Regions from separate parts of the Homo sapiens genome. Here regions 1 and 3 are each linked to region 2. The links come from fine-mapping of genetic effects on gene expression. A gene starts in region 2. Each other region holds a variant in brackets. All regions are shown on one strand. Distances are between the middles of the regions.

What was found. PIP is the estimated chance that this variant, and not a neighbour inherited with it, causes the effect.
Region 1: its variant is fine-mapped to the expression of TDP1 in whole blood (INTERVAL, PIP 0.97).
Region 3: its variant is fine-mapped to the expression of TDP1 in whole blood (TOPMed, PIP above 0.99).

The regions. Positions count from the first base shown.
Region 1 is chr14:89,881,625-89,889,307 of GRCh38, forward strand. The region is part of intron 5 of EFCAB11 (EF-hand calcium binding domain 11); the gene reads right to left. Among named protein-coding and RNA genes, the nearest start is that of EFCAB11, 69 kb to the right of the region's middle. RefSeq lists a silencer at 416-535. The variant A/C (reference allele first, on the strand shown) is at 3,591.
Region 2 is chr14:89,951,287-89,958,969 of GRCh38, forward strand. TDP1 (tyrosyl-DNA phosphodiesterase 1) reads left to right here and starts at 4,641. Exons shown (of 17, transcript NM_018319.4): 1 at 4,641-4,684; 2 at 5,292-5,514. EFCAB11 (EF-hand calcium binding domain 11) reads right to left here and starts at 3,444. Exons shown (of 6, transcript NM_145231.4): 1 at 3,300-3,444; 2 at 2,620-2,715. The coding sequence starts at 3,374. RefSeq lists enhancers at 3,173-3,673, 6,699-7,207 and a silencer at 4,739-4,968.
Region 3 is chr14:90,028,228-90,035,910 of GRCh38, forward strand. It overlaps TDP1 (tyrosyl-DNA phosphodiesterase 1), which reads left to right. Exons shown (of 17, transcript NM_018319.4): 16 at 4,879-4,987. Among named protein-coding and RNA genes, the nearest start is that of KCNK13, 30 kb to the right of the region's middle. The variant C/A (reference allele first, on the strand shown) is at 3,437.

The DNA.
Region 1 (7,683 bases), 70 kb before region 2:
TTTAGTAGAGGCGGGGTTTCACCATGTTGGCCAGGCTGGTCTCAAACTCCTGACCTCAGGTGATCTACCCACCTTGGCCTCACAAAGTGCTGGGATTACAGGCATGAGCCACTGTGCCTGGCCTGGAACTAATATATTTTCAAATTCTACTACCAACTATACAAAATCTGTTCTAAATTTTACTTGTCTTAAATTTTCCTTCATTAAAGAGTAAAGGTATGAAGTTGACAGTGTGCATGCACTTGAACAAAAATAATTTCAAACCTGGGTCTACAACCAAGATCAGTAGCATTAAACATAGGAGCATGTATGCTTAGGGTTACATAAGCAATGTAGTATTACTATAATCAATTAACAGAACTTTGACTTCTATTTATAATGCTTCCAAAAACTGGTTTGCTCAAGAGCACCTGTGTGGAGCTATACTGGTTTTCTAATCCCACTTCCCCTTTCAAACACCTTTTTTCTACTTTACAAAAGAAAGGCACATTTCTTACCTAACATGAATCTTACAATCATGCATTGCCTGAGTGTTGAAAAACTTCCTGGGTGCCAGAGGGACGAATAAAATATTGGTATCTGTGAAGACTTTATTCAATGCATTATAAACTCTTCATTGAGAGGTTCAAATACTACCTTGTCTTATTATTTGTTTCTGTTAAGGGTGAAGCACAATGGGAAATGTATGTGCGGCATATGTTGAGATGGTCTAAATTCAAATATGTTATAGAATACTGATCATTTTGATATAGTGACTTTGACTCTTTCCCCACCATGGACAAAGAATGCACTGCCCTGGGAGAAACTCCTACAAAAGGAAGCCAAGAGATCATCTGTGAGAAACCATCTGTGATGTTTCATTTCATCCAGGTGAAAAACCTACAGCAAGTTTCTATGACTTCTCTCACTCTCTCTCTTTTTTTTCTCTCTCTATCCATTCACTCATCTACTCACCTTAAAATAAGGTTGCTTAAGATTTATATAAGCAATGATGGGAAATACCGATTTCCTACAGAGTGTACCTTCTTTGAATTTTCACTGTTCTTAGGAACAAGAAAAGGCCTGGTGAATGTTCTACCCACCTCTCAGTCTGTGGCTCAGTTACATATAATATACAATTTAAAGAAGGCAGAGCTAAAAAGTCCTACAGCTACCGCTATGGTTTGGATGTTTGTCCCCTCAGACCTCCAGCTGAAATTTGATTCCCAGTGTTAAAAGTGGGGCCCAATGGGAGGTGTTTGGGTCCTGGGGGTGGAAAAGTGGGTCCTCATGAACAGATGAATGTGCTCTCTTGGGGTTGAGGGTGAGTGAGTTCTTACTCTATTAGTTCCCACCAGAGCTGGTTGTTAAGAAGAGCCGGGCGCCTCCCCACTCTTTCTTTTGCTTCCTCTCTTGCCGTGTGATCTCTGCACATGCCAGCTCCCCTTTGCCTTCCACCAAGAGTGGAAGAAATCTGAGGCCTCACCAGATGCAAAACGCCCAATCTTGAACTCTCCAGCCATCAGAATTTTTAGCCAAATAACCCTTTTACATTATAAATTATCCAGCTTCAGGTATTCCTTTAAAGCAACACAAATGGACTAAGATAGTTATCTTAACATAATAATATTCTAGTACATCTTTGAATAAAAGAAATTGATATTAGAGGAATGTTTTGTAGTTTCTTGAAAATTTGTTCAGACTCACAAAAGAAATACTGCCATTAAGCTTTGTCAAAAGGTGACTGAATATATAAATATAGTCATCGCTTGGTATCCATGAAGGACTGGTTCCAGGACCTCCCATGAACACTAAAATTCATAGATGCTTAAGTCTTTACTATAAAATATTGTAGTATTTGCATATAACCTAAGCACATCCTCTTGTATACTTTAAATCATCTCCAGATTATTCATAATGCCTAATACATTGTAAATGGCATGTAAACAGTTGTTATACAATATTGTTTAGGAAATAATGACAAAGAAAAAAGTCTGTATATGTTCAGCGTAGATGTAACTTAAAAAAAATATTTTCTGTCCTCAGTTGGTTGAATCCACAGACATGGAACTTGCTGATATAGAGGGCCAAATGTACATTTACTTTTTATTTGGACACAAATGCCAAGTCACCTGTCACTTCTAAACCACTTCTCTGTTCATTTAATTATTCTTCCCAAGTACCTGTTAGATATAGACAAATTTAACAGCATTGTGGAATCTACTACAAATAATGTCCATATAGTCAGGTACAGTGGCTTACATCTGTAATCCAGCTACTCAAGAGATGGAGGTGGGAGACTGCTTGAGGCCAGGAGTTCAAGACTAGCCTGGGCAACAGAGTGAGACCTCATCTCCAAAAAAGTTTTAAAAAACTAGCTGGGCATAGTAGCACATGCCCATAGTCCCAGCTACTCCAGAGGCGGAGGTGGGAAGATTGCTTGAGCCCAGGAGTTTGAGGCTATAGTGAGCCATGCTCTCACCACTGCACTCCAACCTGGGCAACACAGGGAGACTCTGTCTCTAAAAAATAATAAGAAAACAGTAATTTTTAAATGCCCTTAACAAAAAAAAATTATACAATTGTATATCCTCTAAGCCTCACATTTACTAATGGTACAATAGTTCTATTTTTACTATTGGTCTACTGCATATCATCATCACATTAACAGGGTAAAGGAGAAAAATATGATTATGGCAACATGAGCAGAAAAAGCATTTAATAAAAGTCAGTATTTATTCATGATAAAATTTCTTAGCAAAGCAGGAGCTCCCTTAATCTAATAAAGGTTATTTATCCCCTAAAAACATAACAAAACCCAAAAACCTATTGCATATTCCATAGTTAATGTGAAATACTAAAGTTTTCCCCTCCCCCCACCAAGATGGGGAAGAAACAGGATACCTGCTCACATAACTTTTATTTATCACTATGTGGGAGACCCTAGCTGATATAGTAAGAAAAGAAAAAGAAATCAATGACATAAGAATTGGAAAAGAAGAAATAAAACTACTATTGTTTGAAGATGACTTGATTGCATGCCTAGAAAACATAAAATATATACTATTACAATTACTAAGACGAAGTACTAGAATAAGTTAACTTTGTATTATGTACTGAATGTGTGTGCCCACTCCTGCTCTAAATTCTGTGTCGAATCCCTCACCCACAATGTGACAGTATTTGGAGGTGGTGTCTTTGGGAAGTAATTAGGTCATGAGAGTGGGACCATCATAAGGGATTAGTGCTCTTATAAGAAGAGCAAGAGATCCCCCACTCTGTGCACATGTCCAGGAAAGGACCCAGAAGCACACAGCCAGGCAGGCAGCCATCTGCAAGCCAGGAAGAGCCTCCTCACCAGAACCAGACCATGCTGGCATCTGATTGCAGACTTCGCAGTCTTAAGAACTGTGAGAAAATAAATTTCTGTTGTTTAAGCCACCCAGTCTATGGTATTCTGTTACAACAGACGGACTAGACTAAGACATTCAGTCATGCTGCTGGTGTAAGACCAGCATATAAAAAACAATTGTATATCTAAATAAGTAGAAAATAAAATTTAAAAATCTATATAACTACATAAAAACCAAATATTTCAGAATTATCTGATA[A/C]AATATGTGTAAAACTTTTACATTAAAACTACAAAACAGCAAGGAAAGTTAAATAAGACCTTTAAAAACAAAAGGATATACTTTATTCATGCACTGGAAGACTTAAAACATTTTGGCATTGTCAGTTCTCCCCAAATTGATCTAGTCTAAAGATTCAATATAAATTCAATTAAAAACCCAGCCAGCGGGCGTGGTGGCTCAAGCCTGTAATCCCAGCACTTTGGAAGTCTGAGGCAGGTGGATTACGAGATCAGGAGATCGAGACCATCCTGGCTAACATGGTGAAACCCCATCTCTACTAAAAATACAGAAAATTAGCCAGGCGTGGTAGCGTGCGCCTGTAGTCCCAGCTACTTGGAGGCTGGGGCAGAAGAATCGCTTGAACCTGGGAGGTGGAGGTTGCAGTGAGCTGAGATCGCACCACTGCACTCCAGCCTGGGTGACAGAGCAAGACTCTGTTGAAAAAAAAAAAGAGAGAAAGAGAGAGAAAGAGAGAAAGAAAGAGAGAGAGAAAGAGAGAGAGAGAGAAAGAAAGGAAAGAAAGGAAAGAAAGAAAGAAAGAAAGAGAGAAAGAAAGAAAGAAGACAGCAACTAAAAGAAAGAAAGAAGGAAAGAGAAAGAAAGAAGACAGCAACTTTTGGGTTTGAAGTTGGCTTCTTGTTTTTTTCTTTTTTTTTCTTTGGTGGAAATTGAAAAACTGACTCTAAAATTTATTTTAAAACACAATGGGCTAAAAATAGCCAAGATAATTCTGAAGAAAACACAAAGCTCTAGGACTTACACTGCCAGACATCAAGATTACAAAGTTATATAATAAAGAGAGTGTGATACTGGCACAAAGATAGACAAACAGACCAATGCAACATAACAGAGAGTCAAGGGAAGAGTTAATGTTGCAGCCTCAAATCTGAAGGCAGCCTGTGGGCAGAACTGCTTCTTCCCTGGGGGACCTACATGTTTTCTCTTAAGGCATTCAACTGATTAGATGAGGCCCTCTCACCTTATAGAAAGTGATCTGCTCGGTCAGGCGTGGTGGCTCATGCCTGTAATCCCAGCACTTTGGGAGGCCAAGGCTGGTGGATCACGAGGTCAGGAGATCAAGACCATCCTGGCCAACTCTGTGAAACCCCGTCTCTACTAAAAATACAAAGAAATGAGCCGGGCGTGGTGGCGGGTGCCTGTAGTCCCAGCTATTCGGGAGGCTGAGGCAGGAGAATGGCATGAACCCTGGGGGCGGAGCTTGCAGTGAGCTGAGATCGCGCCACTGCACTCCAGCCTGAGCAACAGAGCGAAACTCCGTCTCAAAAAAAAAAAAAAAAAAAAAAAAAAAGGAAAGTGATCTGCTTTACTCAAGATCTACTGATTTAAGTATATCTTAAAAATATCAAGACTGGTTTTTGATCAAACACTGAGGCAAATATGACAAATATTAAGACAAGATAAAGGGAAGTGGCTGAAATGCAAGTGTTACACCATATTATTCTCCATACTTTTCTATGTTTAAAATATTTCTAATGGACACAAAGAGATCAAAGTATGTATTTAGTATCTCGATATTTGGAAAGACTCCTGATTTATTGCAGTTTTGGTAATTTACAGCAGATACACAATTCTCAGAGACAGCCCAAAGAGTCAGAAAATTTAATCAGGCTTAGAGATTAAATATATCCATTGTTAACTTTTTAGTTAGCTAATTATTATAACCTAAACCTAAGGTCAGTCTGGATACCTTCTTCACATCCTAAATAATCCACAGAAAATCTTATAGATTTGAATTAACAAAGATCAAATACCATACTAATATAAACAGATTGTTTTTATAGTCTTTAATAAATTCATTAATTTATTCAACAAGTGCTCTGAACTAACCTGAACATCCAGAGGTATTCAAGAACAGACAACATCACTGCTCTCATGAAGCTTTATAGTCAAGCCTGACAGATAGACAATAAGGAAACAAAAACAAAAATCTTCCCTGAGATTTGCTAACTGCTATGAATGACATAAAACCAGGCAGCAGAGATTTACTGGGGATGGGAGATGGAGTGAAGTCACTTTGGATAGGAAAGGCCTCTCTGATGATGTGATATTTAAACAGGGAACTACAAATGCAAAGATCTGAAATAGAAGGTAGCAAACAACTAGATACACATGATCACATAGGAGTAATAAATTAGACATAAGCTTTCTAAGCCTATGGAAACACAGGGCCATTTATCATGTGTAGTTTGAAGTTTTGGAATTCTTTTTAAAAAGTAAAACTAGAAATAATTTGTTTTCTATCCATAAACATTTAAGTAAGTGTCATGCCTAGGTCATATAGCATGACTCCTTATGTGGTATTTAAGTAAAAACAGTACTAAGGTATTAAATTGAAATAAAGTAACACTGAAAATAAATAACAAGGAATCCTTAAGGTATTTACTGAAAGAAACCAGTAAAAGTCAACCTTTTTCTTACATATGTACCAACCATTTAGAAAAGACAACAGACTGTAAATATATTCCTGGGAACAGGTGTTATGGAATAAAGAAAGCAAACTTAGGCAGGGATCAAAAAAGCAGGTGACTATGAACAGTAAAATAATATTACAGTAAGACATTAAACATCTGTATCATATTTCAGCACGTGTTAACACTCGCATTTTTCTTGAAGCTATAATATATTTTCTTGGAAATGGATATAGCAAATAGTGAATCTTCTCATTTCAATTCTAAAAAAATAATCTAAAGTATACTTGTAGAGAGGCAAGCTCTTAGTTATCAGCTATATCCCAGATGGCCCTCTAGCAGCATTTAAAGGCCATGCCCTTAAGTCACTGTTCAACATACTGAGGTAGATAATACGGCCAATACAATGATGAGAATTACAAAGAAGGAAATAAAACAGAAAATGCTGTTGCTATGGTCTGAATATTTGTGCCTGCCCCAAATGCATATGTTAAAACCTAATCACCAATGTGATGGCTGGAGGTGGGGCCTTTGGAAGGTAATTAGGTCATAAAGGCTGAACCCCCATGAATGGGATTGGTGCCCTTATAAGGGGCTGAAGAGACTAGAGTTCTCTCCTTTCACCATATGAAGACTGTAGTAGGCTGTTCTTGCATTGCTATAAAGAAATATCTGAGCTTAGATAATTTATAAAGACAAGGTTTAGATGGCTTATGGTTCTGCAGGCTTTACAGGAAGCATGGCGTTGGCATCTGCTTGGCTTCTGGGGAAGCCTACAATCATGGCAGAAGGTAAAGCAGGAGCAGGCATGTCACATGGCCAGAGCAGGAACAAGAGTTGGAGCAGGGGAAGTGCTACACACTTTTAAATGGCCAAATCTCACAAGAACTCACTAACATGAAGACAGCACCAAGCCTTGAGGGATCTGTCCCCATGATCCAGACACCTCCCACCAGGCCCCACCTCCAGCATTGGGGATTACAGTTCAACATGAGATTTGGGTGGGAACAAATGTCCAAACTATATCAAGGACACATTTAGAAGGTACCATCTGTGAACCAGAAAGTGGGCCCTCCCCAGACTCCAGATTTGCCAGCTCCTTGCTCTTGGACTTCCCGGCCTACAGAAGTGTCAGAAAAAAATTTCTGTTGTTTATAAGCCACCCAGTTTATGGTATTTTTATTATAGCAGCCCAAATGGACTAAGACAGCTGTCCTGTCTTTGTTTATAAAACCATGGCGCTGTGATACTGTCTCTGTTTGCAGTTCTAATTGCTAAATTTCAGAAAATACCAAAAGGGAAATACAGAAAGAACCATGGCAGTAAATTAGTGGTCAAGGACCAGACAAATGGAAAAAACAATTCAAATTCTCCAACCCAGAAGAAACACAGAGGCAGAGAAAAGCCTATGAGATCAGGAAGGGTTTGCATGATAATTAGAATGATTTTTCAAATCTGAAAATTAAGAGCCATGAAACAACACTGAAGATTAAAAGGGGCTGTATGAAGACAATTTCTTCCTTTTTTTGACAATTTATTTTAATCACCATTTTAAGGAAATGTATGGAACATCTTATTCATGAGGTGAGACAAAATGAAAGTAATTTTCAAAAAAACCCAAATAAAGTATTGGATAAAATCAT
Region 2 (7,683 bases):
TCACTCTTACCACCACCACATCCAATCAGTCATCAGGGCCTAACTTGTCCCACCACCCACAAAGTGTTCCTAGATACTTATCAGAGTAGTCTATCTTCTCTAGTCTAAATGACCACCCAGACTGTTATAGTTACCACTAGAATTAGGCCTTCCTTCTTTGCTCCCTTCACTTTGTTTTTCAATCTCTTCTCTTTCTTGGTATCTATCACAGTTTTATGTCTTTCTATATTAAACTCTGAACTGCTTCGAAGTAGAGACTGTGTTTCATTCATCTTTATATCACTAGCAACTAGCAAGTACTCCTTTTATTAAATAGAAACAATAAATTTCATTGTGTATGGGTGGGCACAGTAGCTTATGCCTGTAATCCCAGCACTTTGGGAGGCTGAGGTGGGCGGATCACTTGAGGTCAGGAGTTGGAGACCAGACTGGCCAACATTGGTGAAACCCCATCTCTACTAAAAACACAAAAAAAAAAAAAGAAAAAAAAGAACCGGGTATGGTCGTGTGCACCTGTAGTCCCAGCTACTCAAGAGGATGAGGCAGGAGAATTGCTTGAACCTGGAAAGTGGAGGTTGCAGTGAGCCTAGATCACGCCACTACACTCTAGCCTGGGTGACAGAGCAAGACTGCATCTCAACAAATAAATAAACTTAATTATGTAAAAAACTGCATGAATGTATAAGTGATTTATTATATAAGTATTTTATTGCTTCATGACCTGCAGTCAGTGAATATTTCATTTGCTCAAAAGCAATATTAAAAAATTAAACCCCAAACCTCAACCTAGTCTAAAAAAATCTGTTGAATTTCACAGAAATTAAGTGTCACCTGCATAATAAAAGTTCATTGTACAAATGACTAAGTTTATAGGTGACATGCTATTAGTAAATACCGTTTAGTGACCTGCGGTTACTAAATAGTTCATTTGCTTAAAAAATAAAATAGAAAACCTCACCTCAATATGAAAAGTAAAATCTGTTAAATTTCATGGAGTGTATGTACAGTATGTTACATCACTGTATCTGTCATTAAATTCCTCATTCTAAAATTGAAACCAAATAGACTCAAGGGTGATAAAGGCAAAAATGAGACAAGATACCTTTCCAGGTGAATCCAAGTTAAATACAATGCTTCACAGGCTGACTCTTTTCAGCTGACCTGCTTTGTAATTCCAACTGAAATGATTACAGGTAAACAGGAGAGCTGCCATTTCTAAGAGTCAGCCCTGACTACTTCTCTGAGCTCCATAATAAGCTTCTCAGTAACTAGGCAGCCCCTCATAGCTGAGCCACTCTGAACCCACCTGAGCTGTTCATGCAACCTACTTGGGTCAAGAGAATATATTAATACTTATTGTGCATCACAACTTCACAGTAAGTATGTTCTGTTGACACAAATAGGGCGGAGAGGCATGACATCACAGGGTCCCTGGCTTTGCTGGGCTTTCAATCTGACAGAAAGGCACAGTCCACTCATGAGGAGAACAGCTGGGCCCTAATTAACTGCCAAGCTGTCTGGTCTAATGAGAGTGAGGGATGGCATTCCAGGCTGAGCTCTGAGTGCTTCCTTTGCTTGATGGTGGCAGCTCAATTTCTTGAATCTGGACAATATCTTGACTCTGACTAATTCCAGCTTAACAAGAAGGGTGTTGTCTCTCGAATGAATGTAACAGGAAAGCAGAAAAGCATAAAGACAGGGGTGAGCAGGAAACTTGCCCTACTCAAGCAGGAGGTTCATGGAGGCTCAGCTCAACTCTCATTATTGGTGAATTGGTGCAATCTTTTCTGGAGAGCAAATATCTAACAAAATTTTAAACGTACATATTCCATGACCTAGCAGTTATACTTCTAGGAACTTATTCCACAGATATACAGCCACAAGGACATAAATGTGTGTATCATTGCAGCAATGTTGGCAGAAAAAAAAAAAAAACCCCACCTATATAACCCCAGACAGGAACCTGGCTAAAAAGAATATGCAACCATATTTTAAAATGCAGTAGTGGTGTGTGCTTTTAGGTTGATATATTGTTAAATGAGAAAAGCAAGTTAAAGTAGGCACAATATTTACCCATTTATGTTTTCAATAAAAGACTATGCATATGTATGTCATGGATAGAAAATTTCAGAATTACACAAAAAAACTGTTAATGGTAATCCCCTAGGAGTGGGACCCTCTGGTAGGCGGCGAGCGGATTTTATGCTCAACTTTATACCTTTCTGCACTGTTTTAATTTTTTGACCGTGGATGTATTTTATAAACAAAGCAACAAAAGTAAAACGAGAAAGAGACTATGTCATGTCCTATGTAAATTTCTCCTGTTACCAACACTCCCCTCTCAGTCTTCCCTCTTGGCACCTCTCTAGCATCTTGTATTTATAGTAGTTATTAGCAGCCTGGTGGTGAGATAGGCTTGTGTAGACTCCAGTGGAAAAGATTTCTACTTCATCTCTGGGCTGAGGTGTTAAGAGGAAGCTAAAATTCAGCACTGGACACATCTCTGAAATTGCTTATAAAGCAATTTATAAACATCCTAAGCTAGCCCTGTGAACTTTTCTTAGGATCCATTCACCTTTGATCGTCTACCCCATCCCCAAATATATAAGAAAGCTCTACCTTGGAGGGCTTGTACCCAAACAGCATTACAACAGCAGTTTTAAAGTCCTCTCTGCTGAGATATCCTTTGTGATCTTCATCACATGCTTTAAATACCTGAAGAACATTAAATAGCTTTAGTTAATGAGACAGAAATGGTTTATTTTTATTACTAGTTTATTATACAGTTTGGACCTCGAAAATCTAAAACTTGGCCCAGCGGTAGAGTATGAAAATAGAATTTCATTATCCCAATATTAATTCTCAAGAAATCTTAAAGATGGACTGAAATTTTCTTAAACATGGGCTGAAATTTCCCTCAAAGTGCAAACGAGTTAACCGCTAGGTGACGCAAATTAATTCATTTAGGCCACTGAGATAAATTCTACCCAAAATTCAGTCCTGGAGTTAGGAAGGTGAGGCAAAGGGGCTGGCTTTGAAAGGCGGGAGAGATGCAGACTCAAGGTTACCATTAATAGACTATATAGAGAGAAAGGAGATGGAACTTGGAGGTAGCCGTAGTCCTGGACGGGGAGCCAGGAGCCCTGCAGCTCCAGGATCAGTCATTAACCACGACCCTTTGGACAGGCAGCCCAGGTCTTATCTGCACACCCGGCAGAGTGAGACCCAGACACGGGAGAGGAAGCGAGAGGCCCAGGCCAAGCTGAAGTCCGAGGCTCAGTCGCCCTCCGGAAACCTACTTCCACCCACTTCCTGTGTTCCGAGGGACTGGCTTCCCACGTCCGCGACCTGGCTCTGGCCTCGGAGAAGAACATCGCGACTACAACAACCGAGCCCCAGCAACCCAACCAGCTACCACCGCTTTCCCAGCCTGGCTGGCAGCCTACCGCGGCCACGCCCACCGCGGCTCAGGAAGCCGAACTTCACCGCGCAACTCCGACGTCTCCTCCCATTGGACAACCTGCCAGCCACTCGCGTTAATCCCGCAGGGCTATTGGCCAGAGTCTTTGTTTAATTACGTTTCCTTGGAGCCGCCCTGGCAGTGAGGCGCCCAGGCCTGCCCCCAGCACTTGGCTCCACCCCCTGACTGTCCCTTAACTCGTTGAGCGCGGCTGGAAATCCAAGCGCTTCTAGGTGCTGGTTCAATGCCTGGTTCATGATTTATTTCATTCTCTCCCTCCATCTTGCAATAGGTTACTTTTAATCATTTAGATCTATGACACTATGCTAAACGTTATAGGAGACAAAAAGACTGTGAACAAACAAGAAGAACCAAACGAAAAGAGCCAAGTCCAGGATTCTCGTTCAGATCAGCAAGTCATTGGGATCGAGCTCCTAGGGCAGCTACTACATCTGTTATGTCCTCAAGATAATCCCAGCACCTAGCACTGTGCCTGGCACAAAGTAGATCTTCAATGAAAGAACGAAACGAGCCGTTATATTTACACAGATGTATTTCACTCAGTCCTCTGGAAGAGATGCCTAGTGTGAAAGAGATTCCAAGAATAAATACCATAAACAGCACCGAGCCCAAATCCCACAGCAAACATCCTTATTAAAGGCAAGGAACGTGGGGCGAGTTCCTTTTCTCAGAAGATTTTACGAGAACGCAACTGTTGCGAAGAAGGAACAGACATTCGAGGTTCTGAGTCCAATGGGAACTCATTTAACTTTTTATTTTGCAGCAGATTTCAAAGTCTGCACCCAGCCCCTCCCAGGACACAGGTCTCCTTGCAGCTGCCTTTAACCTAAGCGTATCCTCTCTCCACTTTAAACCAAACGCCGCTGCATGGAGCCCTGGGAGCCTGAGCCATGAGAATCCTGTAAAGAGGGTGAGTCTTGCTATTAGTTAACTAGAGCGAAGTTAGGGGACGCCTTTCTGGTTCTCCTCTCGTTTTAAGAAGTCTCCAGGAAGTAAGCCAAGAGCTAGGAGAGACCAGGTTTCCCCAGCCCCGTCCTGGGTAAACACCCGGCGGGCTTTAGGACCCAGCGGTGGGCTCTCCGGAAGGGGAAGGGGCCGGGCCTCGAGGCACAAGCCGCTGCCGCCAGGGTTTGAACTGCGCGCATGCGCGGCGGCCGCCGAAGGGGCGGGATCCGAGGCAAGCGTTGGTTCTGTGCGCCTCAGGTACGTGTTGGGCGGCAGTGGGCGCGGACTCGGTGCGGTCTCTCGCGGGCTGCGGTCGGGCCCGGGATCCTGCTCCTGGCCGAGTCGCGGTGCGCGGGCTGCTGGGGTCCGGCAGGGCTGGAGGCGGACCGCGAGGAAGCGGCGCGGCCGGGAAGATGGGGCAGGGTCGCCTCGGCCCCGGGGCCTCGGTTTCCTCCGATCACAGCGCCTCAGGGGGCGCGCACGGGCGCTGCGGAGACCTGTGTCCTGCCGGGGCGCGGCGCTAGGGGCCCCTGCTCGGGTTTTTATTCCCAGACCTAAGCTTACAGGTGCGTGGTCCCAGAAAGTGAGTAGGAAAGCGCCCACCACGTGCCAGGCGCTTAAGCTTTCTGTGCTCGGTTTCCCAGTATAGGAGGACGGTCACGGTACGTAGTATAGAGTTGTCCTGAGGGTGAAGCGAGTTTACACTTGGTGAGGCGCTTCGAATCGTGCCTGGCCGGCCCCAAATGAGCACGCAGTAAGGTTAGCAGCTGCTGCCGTCACTTCCTCACGTTCTGAATCTGCTCCGTCCCCAACGCCTTCAGCAAGAGCCCTCTCACTTCCTTTGTCTTCAACCCATTCTCCGCAGAGTTGGAGCACACAGCTGTATTAAAAAGGCAAATCGAAGGCCGGGCGCGGTGACTCACGCCTGTCATCCTAGCACTTTGGGAGGCCGAGGCGGCTGAATCACTTGAGGTTAGGAGTTTGAGATCAGCCCGGGCAACATGGTGAAACCCCGTCTCTACAAAAATAGAAAAATTAGCCGAGCGTGATGGTGGATGCCTGTAATCCTAGCTCCTCGGGAGGCTAAGGTAGGAGAATTGCTTGAACCTGGGAGGCAGAGAGGTTGGAGTGAGCCGAGATTGCGCCATTGCGCTCCAGCCTGAGCGGCAGAGCGAGACTCTGTCTCAAAAAAATAAATGTAAATCGGACTCCCCTTCTTAAAGCCCTCAGTGGGGTCCCATTGATCATTGCATAAAATCCAATTTCTTTAACAAGTCTTCTCCCCTCACCCGCTTCGGACCACTGCCTGCCTTGCCTAAGTCCTTTCTTATGACCTCTTTCCCACCTCTGCCGGCTGGGTTCCCTCTACTTGGGAATGCTCTTCACCCCATCATTTAGACAGCAGGTTCCTTTTGGCCCTCTGGGTCTCATTTATATGTTACTTTTTAAGTATATTCCAAAGGTCACCCCTATTTTTCTGTCTCATACTTATAAAATGTAATGAATGTCTAACTCATCTTGGCTATTAAAATTTTTATGTGTGGGTCTGTCTCTTCTGCCCTGAAATTAGCTCTGCTAGGGTAGAAACTATATTGTTAACGCCTCATTCCCAGTTTTTGGTACATAATAGCTGCCCAGTAAGTTATTGAATGAATGAACTCCAGGGGGTAAGCATGATATCCATTTCACAGACTAAAAAACTGAGGCTCAGCAGTTAACTAACCTGCCCAAGTGCACATTTACTCCCTAGTCATGGCCGGGTTTGAGACAAGGGACCATGTTTGCCTATTACTGGCCACACAGGAACTCAATTGAGGAGCATGGCCTCCAGGCCCAGCTGATGGTCTTTAAGCTCAATGAGAAGGAGCAGCTGGAGGTGAAAGAGAAATGCCCCAGCTGGGTCTCATATAGTGGGGAGTGAGGAAACACTAGTAGCTCTAAATGGAGTACCCTTTTATATCCACAACATGTTTTAAAGTCCTTAATAAAAGTGCTAACAGTGTCCTGAGCTAGCATTTGGTGGGAAGATTTCTTAGATTTTTCATGTTAGTGCAGTGTTTGCCAAATTTCACTCACACTCACCTGCCTTCTCCCCAGTTTGCTTTATTCTCTTAACACATGACACAGGATTTATTTCAGGGCCGCTTTGCCAGCTGGAGACCTCCAGCCCTGGGCTGGCTGCAGGAGGTGCCCTGCCCACTCAGCCTGGCAGAATGCATTTGTCTTTCATCCCCGCCCAGATCCCGTGGCCACTATGACTGCATGCTCAGCCCGCGAGGAGTCGGTTTGTGAGTGAGTGAGCAAGCCTGGAGGCCCGGCTGGCTGTTCCAAGTGCTGGCCCAGTCACAGGCTCCATGTAGGGCTTGTGGATGGCCTGGGTGTATGGCAAGTGACTCTGGTAGCAGATTCTGGTGTCCAGACGAGGGGGATGCAGTAGTGCCCAAACACTTGGAGACACCAGGCAAATAGAGATGTATTAACAGCTCTTTTAGTCCCACCATCTGCAGCCCAATGAATGGGGGTGTGTGGCAGCCAGCAGCTCCCTCTCCCATTGCTTCACTAGCGGAACGGAGTGCTACAGGGTTATAGCTCTATTTGCACTCGCTGTTTAGCTGGTCCGAATTTCTTGTCCTGCGTCCAAGAATAATGAGGTTAGGCTGACAACCGAAGGGGAAAAGGGCGGAGGTGAGTTTTACTCAGTGATGAGACAGTTCTCAGCAGAGACGGGACCCCAAGTGGATGGCCCCTGCCCTGACCCCAAGGTGGGCAGTTCGCTGGTGTGACTGAGTCTGGGGCTTTTATGGGCTCAGAATGAGGGAGTGTGTGCTCCATGGTTTGTGAGTATGCAAAAAAGGCTAAAACAAAGGCACCACTCAAAGGTGGGCATGACAATGTAAAAAACCAATTAGGGAAGGGTAGATATATGTAAAGTAGGTGAAGGGTGGGGATTGATCAGAGGAAAGTGTGCCAAGTGGGAAGAGGGGTTATCAATCCGGTCCGTGGATTTACCCAACACTTGTAGCTTGGCTTTCAGGCTTTAAACTGTCTTTGGTTTGCAGGTGGGGTTTCACTGGGGCCCTGCCCCTATCTGCCTAGGGATTTGTCTGCCTCCTGCCGCTATCACATAGACTATCATATACTTAATATTTTTGTTTGAATCCAATCATTCTTTTACATAAAATAAACTTTATTTTGCTATTTCAAATATAACGTAGCCATAAGATACCTTCTGTTGATGGTAAACAAAATTGTTGGTG
Region 3 (7,683 bases), 77 kb after region 2:
TGGTCTTTGACTAAGTGTGCCCCTTCTGGGAAGTTCAGCTGCTATCACTGTTTTATCCAGGAAAGCCTGATGCCTTGTGTAGGGTTTTACCACTTGAGGTTGCTACTCGGATAGCTGCAAATAAAAACATAAATTACATCTCTAACTGAAACTGAAGCATGCCTCCTGTTCCCTATGATTGAGCTAAGCTGCTAAACATAAATCATCAGAGCGACAATCAGCTCTTTCACTCCCAAAGCTGAAGAAAGGAAAAGCCAGCAATTTCTCATGTGTGATATATGTCCACCCTCTCACCTGGTGTTTTATAAACGTATTGTCTTAACTGTCTTCTAAGTATCTGTGCCTGGGAGGGTGCCTTCCTCTGTTTTGTAAAATGCCAAGTGATACCACTGTGATATATAAATAATGATAATTAGAAGACAGCCTCAAATTATTTGACATTCAGATTGAAGGGGAAAGTAGTACTTTTTTTTGTAATAACCTAGAATTTGGATCAGAAATGGCATTCAAAATAAAAGCATATTGGTTTCTGTCAGACAGGGATAGTTCAAACCTTCTCATATCTGAGGTCGAATATCACAAAATGGAGTCATGGGTCGAGCACACAGCCTCAGATCTGGGCCCAGGCTGTAAAGAACCATAACCTGTGGCCACGATATATTTGAAAATATCAGGACTAATAGGAGCTAAAGAAGAGAGAAGTCATTTTTTACCTGAAACTCCATAAAAGTATAATAATCATTAACTTGGAATCACTTCCCAGCCACTAGCCTCTTTGTTTTTTAAAATGTCCAAATACCAGGGTTTCTAGAATTTGGCTCATCTTGACCCTGCCTGCCTTAAATTTTCAAGGAATTCTTCCTTTGTCATAGTTCCTGGTGGTGAATGTGAGACCATTTGTTTGCTTGGTGGAAGGAATGTAGGACCAAGAATCAGAAAGACGGTTTGATTTCCAGCCCTGCCATTATTTTTTTTTTTTTTTTTTTTTGAGACAGAGTCTCGCTTTGTCACCCAGGCTGGAGTGCAGTGGTGCCATCCTGGCTCACTGCAACCTCCGCCTTCTGGGTTCAAGTGATTCTCCTGCCTCAGCCTCCTAAGTAGCTGGGATTACAGATGCGCACTACCACACCTGGCTAATTTTTTGTATTTTTAGTAGAGATGGGGTTTCTCCGTGTTGGCCAGGCTGGTCTCGAACTCCTGACCTCAGGTCATCCGCCCGCCTCGGCCTCACAAAGTGCTGGCATTACAGGCATGAGCCACCGCACCCGGCCTTTTTTTTTTTTTTTTTGAGACAGAGTTTCATCACTGTCACCTAGGCTGGAGTACAGTGGCTCGATCTCGGCTCAGTGCAACCTCTGCCTCCTGGATTCCAGCGATTCTCCTGTCTCAGCCTCCCAAGTAGCTGGGATTACAGGCATACTCCACCATGCCTGACTAATTTTTGTATTTTTAGTAGAGACAGGGTTTCACTATGTTGATCAGGCTGGTCTCGAACTCCTGACCTCAGGTGATCCACCCGCCTTGGCCTCCCAAAGTGCTGGGATTACAGGTGTGAGCCATTGTGCCCGGCCTTGCCACTTTTAATAGCTGTGTGGCCTTGGGCAACTATTTAACCTCCAAATATGTTTCCTTCTCTGTAAAATAGGAGTGATTACATCACAGAGAATTGTCCTGAAAATACTTATAATTATACTCATTTGTTTCCTGGAATAAGTACCATGGGCCAGTCATTGTTAAATAACTTAAATATCCTCACAGTAGCCCTATGAATTAGGTGCTCATATCATCTTCATTTCATAAACGAGGAAACCAGGGCCCAGAAAGGCTAAGTAACTTGCTTAGAGCCACACAGCAAGTAAGCAGTCTGCAAAAGCAAGAGATAATTAGGGACTTCCTCAGATCCAGAGTGTGTCAAAGGTAACATGTGAGCAGGGAAACCTGGGGGCAGGTGCTGCCGAGCTGGCCTGCCTGCCCTCCGTGTCTTCCCTGTCCCCCTCCTCTGTGTCTTCCCTGTCACCCTCCTCTGTGTCAGTGCCCTCGCCCTCCCGGGATGTGCCTGCTCTGTGCTTTGCTGACCCTGCCTTTGATTATGCTGTTCTCACGCTTGGTATTCTTCCCTATCATCTCTCTGTTTATTAAAATTACACCAATTTTTCAAGCCCTAGCTAAAATATCCTCTACAAAGCCTTTCCTTATCCTTCTTGGATAAGGAAAATGACTAGAAGAAGGGCACTTCTTCCTATTCTGTCTAGAGTTTGTGCCTGGCATCTGCCACCTCCTGCCTTTCACTGTATTACTGATCACCATCTTCATCAGTGCTGTAACCCATACCTTTCTGTAGGTCTTGACATGCACAAAACACTTTCACACAGGTTGTGCCATTTGCTCTTATGCAGAAACTTATAAAGGAAGCAGGAAAGGAACTTTAGTTCCATTTCTACAGATCGGTATTTCTTGAACACCTACTATGTACCAGGACTTGTGCTGGGTGCTAAAGTTAGAAATGGTAATGTCTCCAGAAGCTTGATTATCTCATTTTTACTCTTTTTTTTTTTTGAGATGGAGTTTCACTCTGTCACCTAGCCTGGAGTGCAGTGGCGTGATTTTGGCTCACTGCAACCTCTGCCTTCTGGGTTCAAGCTATTCTCCTGCCTCAGCCTCCCAAGTAACTGAGATTACAGGCACACACCACCACTCCAGTTAATTTTTTTTTTTGTATTTATTTATTAGAGATGTGGTTTCACCATGTTGTCTAGGCTGGTCTTGAACTCCGGACCTCAAGTGATCTGCCTGCCTCGGCCTCCCAAAGTGCTGGGATTACAGGTGTGAACCACCACACTCAGCCTTTCCCACTTTTACAAACACAGAACATTTTTTTTTAAATTTTATTATTATTATACTTTAAGTTTTAGGGTACATGTGCACAATGTGCAGGTTAGTTACATATGTATACATGTGCCATGCTGGTGTGCTGCACCCATTAACTTGTCATTTAGCATTAGGTATATCTCCTAAAGCTATCCCTCCCCCCTCCCCCCACCCCACAACAGTCCCCAGAGTGTGATGTTCCCCTTCCTGTGTCCATGTGTTCTCATTGTTCAGTTCCCACCTATGAGTGAGAATATGCGGACAAACACAGAAATTGAAACCTAGGCACAGTGGCTCACACCTGTAATCCCAGCACTTTGAGAGCCTGGGGTGGGTGGATCACTCGAGGCCAGGAGTTCAAGACCAGCCTGAACAACATGGTGAATCCCTGTCTCTACTAAAAATACAAAAATCTGCCAGGCATGGTGGTGCATGCTTGTAATCCCAGCTGCTCGGGAGGCTGAGGCATGAGAACTGCTTGAACCCGGGTGGCAGAGGCTGCAGTGAGCCGAGATCACACCACTGCACTCCAGACTGGGTGACAGAGTGAGACTCTGTCTCCAAAAAA[C/A]AAAGAAACCTAATAAAAGTGGCCAACTGTCCCACTCAACATCTGTTTTAGTCCCTGGGACCTGCCAGGCTCTTTGCCACCTCTGGGCCTTTGCGGATGCTGTTCCCTCCACCTGCAACATAATTCTTTCCACTCCCACCTGACCAAACTCTGCTCATCTTTCAGAGTTTAATAAAGGTGTTGCTTTTTTAAGAGAGGCTTCCACTGATCACCCGCTCCTGCCAAGTCTAAAATAGGCCTGCTATTCTCTTATGGCACTCCTTTGCTTTTCTTTGCAGCACTTAGCACAAATAGTAATTTTTATTTTACTTTTATAGATGTATTTTATGTCCCTCCACCAGACTGTATACTCCATGAGGACAAGGATATTGATGTTTATGTTAACTCTTGTACACTCAGTGCCTGGCACCATGCCTGACCCAGAAGAGGGACTCGAGAAATAAAGTGTCGAATGAACGAATGTGCAGACATCAGTCATTTACTCAGCTTAATAAATGCCAGAGAAAAGTCTAGAACCCAGATTATCTGAAGCCCAGTCAACACGGACCTCCCCATGTTCTTTGACACTGCCCATGACCAGCCTCCGCTTGCTAAGTTGCACCTCAGTCTTTGTTCTTTTTATGGGTTCCTAAGACATCAGCACTGTTGGGTATGTGCCTATTGAGGATTTGAAGGGTGGATATGTGTGTGGATGGGTGGACAGAAGGAATGAGAGACAGACGGACAAGCAGAATGCCAGGATGATCCACGAAGGGGCAGGAGTTGGTCAATGTATGGAAGCACGAGGGGGCACATCGGTCATGTGGTAAGCACCTGCACTGCGGCAGGCCTTGTGTTGGAAGGAAGTGGCAGTGTGAACATCAGCCTAGATATAGAACCTCCACTTCCACCCTGATTAAGATCTAAAATTAATACCCTATTCTAGAGTTCTTGGAATAAACCTTCCATTTTGATAGGTCTTAAAGAATTTTCATTTTTATACTTCTGTCACATTATATTGGAACACTTTCATTATACATGAAAGCAGCTTTTATTTCTTCTTACTCCAGGCAGCCTGTTACTATAGCAATGTTGGAAGTATTTTGAGGTATTTTTATACAGTGAGTTCTACAAACTCCCTGCAAACTGTACATAATGTTGGGTTGAAATGGGCTATCATATCCAAAATTGTCTCTCTTGTTTCTTTGTATCCTTTGAAAACTTTTGCAAACTTTGCTATAACTTAATTCCTGAAAATTAAAGCTCTTATGTTTAGAAAGGAAAATAATTTGGGGCGGGGGGGTTGTAAATATATTTGCCTATGAACATTGAAAATACCTCCAAAATAATTTGAATTTTATTTAGGTACCATAAAGATATTATTGCTTCTTGAGGCCTTCTGGTTTTTTTTTTTAAACCCAGAAAATGGGGTGCAATCATAGATTTCCTCTGTGTGTCTGCAGGGTCTAGACAGTTTCAAAGTGAAACAGAAGTTCTTCGCTGGCAGCCAGGAGCCAATGGCCACCTTTCCTGTGCCATATGATTTGCCTCCAGAACTGTATGGAAGTAAAGGTGAGACACAGATAAAGGAAAACCACGGGTGGATATGCATAAGAAAAACAAACAGAGCCCAGGAGAAGCCTTTGGTCTCAGTGGGATCCTGGCTCATGGAACCCTCTGGAAGCTCAAGTTTGCAGAGGGCCCTTTGCCAGCCTGTCTGGGGCCTTGTAGCCACTGGTTAGTCTTGGAATCCCTTTGCACTCCTATAATTACTATACAGATCCTTCCTGACTTACACTGGGGCTACATGCTGATAAACCCCTCATGAATTGAAAATATCATAAGTCAAAAATGCATTTAATGCGTCAAATCTACTGAGCACCATAGCTTAGTCTAGCCTACCCTAAACATGATCAGACCTCTTAAATTAGTCTACACTTGGGCAAAATAAATCAAAGACTGTTTTATAATAAATTGTTGACTATCTCATAGAATTTATTGGAGACTACTAAAGTACTGTTTCTACTGAATGCGTATCACTTTCACACCATCATAAAGGTCAAAAGGTCATTAAGTCTAACTATTAGAAATTAAAACCAAGAAATGTAACAATAATAAATCTATTGTAACGTACATTTATGCCAGGCACGGTGGCCCACACCTGTAATCCCAGCACCCTTGGAGGCCGAGGCAGGAATATTGCTTGAGGCCAGGAGCCCAAGGCCACCTTGCCCAACATAGCGAGAACCAGTATGTAAAAAAAAATTTGTTTTAAATAGCCGGGTGTGGTGGATCATGCCTGTAGTTCCAACTATTTGGATGGCTGAGGTAGAAGAATCGCTTGAGCCCAGGAGTTTGAGGCTGCAGTGAGCTATGATTGAGCCACTGCACTCCAGCCTGAGTGACAGAGCAAGACCCCAACTCTAAGGAAAAAAAAAAGTTCTTATGACAATTTCCAAAAAGAAGAAAATAGCAAGGAAAGTGGTGTTTTATGTTTTTGCAAGCCTCTTTATGTGCATCTTAAAAGGTGACACCTGAATTCTCATTGCTGTGTTCTCATTGAGGCTGTTGTGATATCACATCGCATAGCCTCTGTATACCTGTGTAAAAATGAAAATGAAAACAACAAATGATGGCTTAATACTACAATGAAAATAATGTTGACTTCACAGGCCCTCCCAACCACCATGCTCACAAACCCTCAAAAGGGAGGTCCCCAGGGGCTACACTTTGAAAACTGCATGCATTGAGTCTTAAGGGCAGTGACCAAGTATCTTTCACAGTAGAAACACAATAGGAATAGCTGCAGAAGGTTCAGTTGTGCTCAGAGGAAGGCTGGCTGGCATCAGTGTACCCACCTATGTCTGGCCTGCGTGTGTCCCAGCCTCACAGGCTGCTCTGCTGCTTTTATCAGCCCTGAGAATATCTGTCTTTAAGGTGGGTCCACACTTAGCAAACTCAGACAGGATGAGATATATAATCAAGACACACTTAATTTAAAATGGCAAATTACATCACCAAATCAGCATATTCTCCACTGGAAAGGAGAGGCCCACATAGCCAAATTATAATCTGCAGGTTTCTGAGCCAGTGTTAAATCTGAACAGAGAAAAGATTTTTTTTTCAATTGGCAAATTTTAATGACATCACTCATTGATACCCCAAAATCTCCAGTTCTTACCAAGCTTGGCCTTGCCCAGTGGTTCCTCTGTTCCCTCAACAATGTTTCATGGAATCTAACAACTTCCCTACCCACTAACCTTCTCAGCTTTCATGGTGAACCAAGCCTCCTCTGTCGCACTAACCTTCCCAGCTTTCATGGTGAACCAAGCCTCCTCTGTCCCGCTAACCATTCTCAGCTTTCATGGTGAACCAAGCCTCCTCTGTCCCGCTAACCTTCTCAGCTTTCATGGTGAACCAAGCCTCCTCTGTCCCGCTAACCATTCTCAGCTTTCATGGTGAACCAAGCCTCCTCTGTCCCACTAACCTTCTCAGCTTTCATAGTAAACCAAGCCTTCTCTGTCTGATGGGCCCTTTCTTAGATGGTGTTAACACATCTGACAAAGTTAATCCTATCTCATGCTGTCCAGTGTGCCATCCTGCCTCTTGCTGGTAACTTTGTATTTCTCTAATCAATAGTTTGATGCTAAGTTTCAGGAGGCATTCTTTTTCTCCTTTCTAAAGTGTGGAAATCCCCTATGCCTTTCTGTTGAGTCCTCTAAATTTCTTGTGTATTCATGCATATTTCGTTTTCGGTAGCAAGGCTATCTAGATTTTTATCAGAATTTAAAGCAGTCTGTCAGGATCTTACCTGCCACCAAAAAAAAAAAAACCCCAGGAAAACCCTGCTTTAAAATCAGGCCATGTTTCTGTGCCAACTCCACAACTTACTAAATAGACTTGGGCATTTAGTTACTTTCTCTAGGTTTTAGTGTGTCTGTCTACACAGTGAGGAACTGTGAGTATCTACCTTATAGGGTTATTGAAAAGATTAACTGAGATTATCTATAAAGTACTTATCTTCCCTCTTTTGGCTTTGTGCTACTTTTGTCTTTTCTCCCCTTATCTGTTCTTCAGGTTCCTTTTCTTCCTTTTTTTTTTTTTTTAACCCAAGTTCTCCTCCTCCCTGTTGGAAGTGGGGACTGACTGACTAGGCTTTATCTGCTGGGGTCTGGCCTTGGGCCCTGCACTTCCCACCCCCAGCCCTGCACCCTGGCTGGATTCCACCCCCTTCATTTCTTTAGTCCTAATCTTCAAAGGACTAAGAA